2 separate regions of the Homo sapiens genome follow, and region 2 is linked to region 1. Evidence: fine-mapped expression QTL. A gene starts in region 1. The other region holds a variant in brackets. All regions are shown on one strand. Distances are between the middles of the regions.

Region 1 (2,900 bases):
CCCAGGTGGAACCCCTTTCTGAGCCTCCTTTTCCCATCAGCTCTGTCCTTGACAGAGGCACCCCAGACTTTCAGAGCCAAACGCGATCGTGTTGCCTACAATTGAGGAAACAGAGGCCTTGAAAGGTGTGTGACACACCTATGTCCCCCCAAATTATAAAGGTAGTTGGGGAAGAAAAAGAAGCACGTGTGTAAGAACGGGGAATATTTATGAGGTTCTCACTGCGTTCCAGGCACTGGGGACCCAGTGCAGACAGGACCTGGCCCCTGCCCAGGTGGCGATGTCAGACTGGGAGGGAAGACACATTGAAAGCCAAGAGACAAGATAAATTTCAAATTTAGCGGCAAGTGATCTTGAGAGGGCAGTAAAGGGAAGAAGGCGGGACTGGGAGGACCTTGGGAGATGCGCTTCCGTCCAGATCCTCACCTTGCTTTAGGAGGTGAGAACAGAGGCAGTCTTCCGTCCCAAAATCCTTCTCCCCACGGTTGGGAGAATAGCGCTGGTGGGTTTTTTGTTCATTTTACTTTATTTTACTTATTTTATTTATTTATGAGACGGAGTCTCGCTCTGTTGCCGAGGCTGGAGTGCAACGGCCGGATCTCGGCTCACTGCAACCTCCGCCTCCCCGATTCAAGCTATTCTCAGGCCTCAATCTCCTGAGTAGCTGGGATTACAGGTTCGTGCCACCAACGCCCGGGTAATTTTTATATTTTTAGCAGAGATGGGGTTTCACCATGTTGGCCAGGCTGGTCTCGAACTCCTGACCTCAAGTGATCCGCCCGCCTCGGCCTCCCAAAATGCTGGGATTACAGGCGTGAGCCACCGCGCCCGGCCTGTTTGTTAATCTTAAATAGAAACGGAGTCTCCTTATGTTGCCTAGGCTGGTCTCCAACTCCTAGGCTCAAGAGATCCTCCTGTCTTGGCCTCAGGAAGTGATGGGATTACAGGCATGAGGCTCCGCGCCCGGCCTGATAGGTTCTCTTATTGCCATGTTGTAGATAGAAGGGGGCCCCTGGGTTAGGCAGACACAGGTTAGGTAGTTCGTCCGGCGTCACCGGGCGGGAGCCCACCGCAGGCCCCACGAGACAAGGGCGAGCAGGTTCATCGCCTCCCGGGGAAAGGACTGGGTAGTCCCAGGCCCCACCCCTTCCTGGAACAGCAAGTTCGCTGTGGGTCCCGACCTACTGACCCAGGCGGAGGGCGGGACGCAGGGTAGCTGGGGCCGCGTAGAGAGGGAAAGAAGGTCGCGATTGGCTCGTCCCGAAAGGTGGGCGGGGCCTCCTCCGACCTGTGCGCGCGCGCCGCGGGGAGGTGTTGCCGAGGGCGGAGCGGGAGGGGGCGTGGCCCCGCGCGGGCGGCCGTTGACGGCGAGGCCCCGCCCCGGATGTCGCGTGTCGCTGAAAGGGCGGCGGCGATTGGCCGGCGCCGCGGGGGCGGGCGGGGCGGAAGGTTCTGGAGGGGGCTGGCGGGCTCTGGAAGCTTCCGCCGGACGGGTATATAGAGTCCGGGACTGGTCGGCGGCGGAGCCGGGGGACGGCGACAGCGGGTCGGCGGGCCGCAGGAGGGGGTCATGGGTAAAGACTACTACCAGACGTTGGGCCTGGCCCGCGGCGCGTCGGACGAGGAGATCAAGCGGGCCTACCGCCGCCAGGCGCTGCGCTACCACCCGGACAAGAACAAGGAGCCCGGCGCCGAGGAGAAGTTCAAGGAGATCGCTGAGGCCTACGACGTGCTCAGCGACCCGCGCAAGCGCGAGATCTTCGACCGCTACGGGGAGGAAGGTGTGTGCTCGCGGCCAGGGGCGCGGCCCCGCCTTTTGACAGACAGGGAAACTGAGGCACGCTGGCCCCTCTCGGCGGCCCCCCGGGAAGGACGCCCCGGGCCGTGGGGCCGAGCTGCCCCGCCCTCCGGCCTCGCGGGCCTCCGCCCTCGGATTGGCGGCCGCGCGGTGGGAGGAGGAGCCTTGGCCCAGCCGCTCGGCCAGAAGCTTCTAGCATGTCTGGGGCTGCCCCTCCCCGGGCGCCTCCTCCCGCGGCCCCGAGCAGCCCCGGGGTGCGGTGCATGGGGGTGGGGGAGCCGGGGGTGACGACGGGGACGGCGCGGCGGAGCCCGCTGCGGACCCGGGCTCACCTGGGCTCGGCCGCCGGGGTCCGCGGGGCGGCGCCTCCGGCTCAGCTGCGGGGCGAGGGGTTGTGAATGCAGGAGCCGACCCCGTTCGTGGGCTTGGGGGCTGGGTTGGGATAATTCCCGGGAAGTGATGACCTGGCCCCGGCAGGGCACGCAGGAGGCAGCGGCCGCCCAGGTCCGGAGAGCGGGGCCGCCTCGGAGGGTAAGGAGAGCAGGGCTTTTTGTTCCTGTGCCCGTTGATGATTCAGGCTGGCTTCTGGGCTTGATCTGGAGCTGACTTTTTGTGCAAGGATGGTGGCAGTGAATGCTAATGTGTGAGGATTTAAAAACTCCCTATTTATTTTTGTTTTTTTTTTTCTTCTCTTCCTACGCACCATTAGCCCTAAAACGTTGAGAGTAAACACTTACCGAAAGCCGACCCTGGACCATGTGTCTTTAGCCATCTCTTGGTGATGTTGCCAGGAGGATGGGTCAGTCCAGGAGTGGCAGGGCCTAGGTGGCACCTGGAGGTGAACACCTAACCGCATGAGTCCTTTTCCACTGTCAGGCTACGCGGAAATACTGTTGGTAGGGGGGCGTCTCTGCTGTTGGCAGTGAGAGGTAGAAACTTGGGGTTCTTCCTTGCTCTCCCCTGACAGACAAAAAAGTTCCTCCCCCATGGCTTCCAAGCTGTTTCCCCCTGTAAGGGAAGCTCGAGAGAGAGTCTGCTGTTCAGCCATCTGACTGCTTCTAAATCTGCTTTTCAGGCCTAAAGGGGAGTGGCCCCAGTGGCG
Region 2 (2,900 bases), 20 kb before region 1:
ATGGTGGCGGGTACCTGTAATCCCAGCTACTCAGGAGGCTGAGGCAGGAGAATCACTTGAACCCGGGAGGTGGAGGTTGCAGTGAGCCAAAATCCCACCACTGCACTCCAGCCTGGGCAACAGGGCAGGACTCCGTCTCAGAAAAAAAAAAAAAAAGAAAGAAAACACAACCCAAGCCCAGATGGGCTGCGAAGGAGATGAGTGGGGTGCCAGGGTGACAGGCAAGGGGTTGGACTTTAGATTGGATGGCCAAGGAAGGTCTCTCTGGGGGACATGGAAGCTGAGCGCTCGGTAACACGAAGGGCCAGGCATGAGGAAAGCAGAGGGAAGGGCATCCAGGGCCGAGGGAATAGCATGTGCTTAGGGCAGGAACGTGGTTTTGGGTATCTGTGAAAGACAGTAGCATAGTAACAACTGAGGAAAGCAGGGGACAGATGACAAGCCTCTGAGGGAAGGTTCTGAGCCATGGCACACTAAGATCCTCCCACTTACAGGCAAAAAGGCCTTCTGCCTGTGGCTCGGTGGGGAACAGTCAGCTAGGAGGGAGCAGGAACAGAAGCAGTGTGCTCCTAGGTGAGGCAGCTGTGACAGGCACCTGGTGGCCAGACTGTCTTCTAGCCTCCACTTCCTGGGATGATTCTTTGTCACAACAGGTTAAAAAGTGGGCTCTGAGTGTGGTGTGACTTCCCCAAGGGTCTTCCCATGAAGAAGGAAAGAGCTGATCATCTCAAAATGTGACTTGCAGCCAGGTGTGGTGGCTCACGCCTGTAATCCCAGTACTTTGGGAGGCCGAGGCAGGTGGATCACGAAGTCAGGAGATCGAGACCATCCTGGCTAACACGGTAAAACTTCGTCTCTACTAAAAATACAAAAAAAAAAAAAAAAAAAAAAAAAAATTAGCCGGGCGTGGTGGTGGGCGCCTGTAGTCCCAGCTACTCAGGAGGCTGAGGCAGGAGAATCGCATGAACCCGGGAGGCGGAGATTGCAGTGAGCCGAGATGGAGCCACTGAACTCCAGCCTGGGTGACGGAGCGAGACTCTGTCTCAAAAAAAAAAAAAAATGTGACTTGCATGGTGTGTGACATTATATCAAAACTGAGGCACTGGCATCTGGGCTTCTTCCTCCACCTTCTGGGCATATGATTTGACATCAGTCTGTCTCCTGGCGCCTGGTGGACCTTCTTCATTAAGTTTTGAAGCTTTTCTCAGCCAGGCGTGGTGGCTCATGCCTATAATCCCAGCACTTTGGGAGGCTGAGGCGGGTGGATCACGAGGTCAGGAGTTCAAGACCAGCCTGGCCAAGATGCTGAAACCCCGTCTCTACTAAAAATACAAAAATTAGCCAGGCATGGTGGCACGTGCCTGTAATCCCAGCTACTCGGGAGGCTGAGGCAGGACAATCACTTGAACCCAGGAGGCAGAGGTTGCAGTGAGCCAAGATTACGCCACTGCACTCCAGCCTGGTGACAGAGGAAGACTCTATCTCAAAAAAAAAAAAAA[AG/G]AAAAAAAAGAGTTTTGAGGCCTTCCAAAGAGGTCAGGTGCCAAAAGCATCTCAGGCAGCCCTGGGGATGCTGATCTGTCCTTACCTGCCTAACGTGGGTCCCTCTCCGCTTAAGGATTTTTACCCTGCCTGTGGGCCGCGAAGCATGCTGAGCACTTCACACTCCCCCACAGGCCCCCAGGTGTCGTTATCCTGGCCTCACAGGGTGACAAAACTGAAGCTTAGGTTAAGTCACTGTCCCAAGGACAGAGTGGGTGGCCTCCAAGTCCTTCACCACCACCACACACTTGATTCTTTCCCCAGTGCACGACCCACAGCAAAGCCCACTCTGGTTCTAGAAGAATCCCAGCTCTGCTAGCCACTAGCTGTGGACAAGTCGCTTCACTTTCTGTGCCTCAGTTTCTCCATCAGTCAAGTAGAGATAAGAACAGCATCTACGTCTTATGTTTAGTACACGATTTAGATATGTTACTAGATAAGAAGCACTCACACTGCCGGCGCAGTGGCTCACGCCTGTAATCCCAACACTTTGGGAGGCCAAGTTGGGCGGATCACCTGAGGTCAAGAGTTTCAGACCAGCCTGGCCAACATGGTGAAACCCCATCTCTACTAAAAATACAAAAACTAGCCAAGTGTGGTGGTGGGCACCTGTAATCCCAGCTACTCGGGAGACTAAGGCAGGAGAATCGCCTGAACCCGGGAGGCGGAGGTGCAGCGAGCCGAGATCACGCCATTGCACCCCAGCCTAGGGGACAAGAGCGAGACTTCGTCTCAAAAAAAAAAAAAAAAAAACACTGATAATTAAGCACTATATTCACCGTAATTTACTAGGAAGATTACTATATTCTGGCTGCCGCAGGAAATGTCCCAGGTATTAAAACATTCTCAGCTGCCACTATCAGTATCAGCAAGAAGGTGTTAAGACCCAGCCTGAACTTGACCAACTAGCTCAAGGTCTCTGGCCTTTCTCACGCAGCCAGGCTTGTCAATGAAAGTGCAGGATTCCCGACCAAACCCAACCACCTTATCAGAGTCGCAAGGCCTTTCCAAGCACCGCCCTCACTCAAGGCTGTCAACCCTCCTCTGTTCTCAGGAACCAGTTAGTCCAGAAGGCTTTGCTGGGCCCAGCTGGTGGAGCCTCTAAATCCACCTGGGTGCGGCTGAAACAGCTACTCCACCTGGCACACACCAAAGCCCACCACTCATCCCGTCCCACCTTCTTGTTACTCGGTCCCGCCTCCCCCTCCCTGGTCCCGCCTCCCCCTCCCTGGTCCCGCCTCCCCCATCCAGGCCCGCCGCTTCCTTCTTGCCCCGCCTCCTCCTCCTGAGCCCCACCTCCTCCCCCTCGGCCTCCCCTTCCCCCCCGGCCCCGCCTCTTCTTTCTCAGCCCTACCTCCTCA

The links. PIP is the estimated chance that this variant, and not a neighbour inherited with it, causes the effect.
Region 2: its variant is fine-mapped to the expression of DNAJB1 in whole blood (INTERVAL, PIP above 0.99).

The regions. Positions count from the first base shown.
Region 1 is chr19:14,517,020-14,519,919 of GRCh38, reverse strand. It overlaps DNAJB1 (DnaJ heat shock protein family (Hsp40) member B1), which reads left to right and starts at 1,523. Exons shown (of 3, transcript NM_006145.3): 1 at 1,523-1,781; 2 at 2,874-2,900. The coding sequence starts at 1,571. RefSeq lists an enhancer at 1-229 and silencers at 1,142-1,461, 1,672-2,241.
Region 2 is chr19:14,537,137-14,540,036 of GRCh38, reverse strand. All of the region lies in intron 1 of TECR (trans-2,3-enoyl-CoA reductase), which reads right to left. It also overlaps a transcript of DNAJB1 not described here. Among named protein-coding and RNA genes, the nearest start is that of TECR, 9.0 kb to the right of the region's middle. The variant AG/G (reference allele first, on the strand shown) is at 1,500.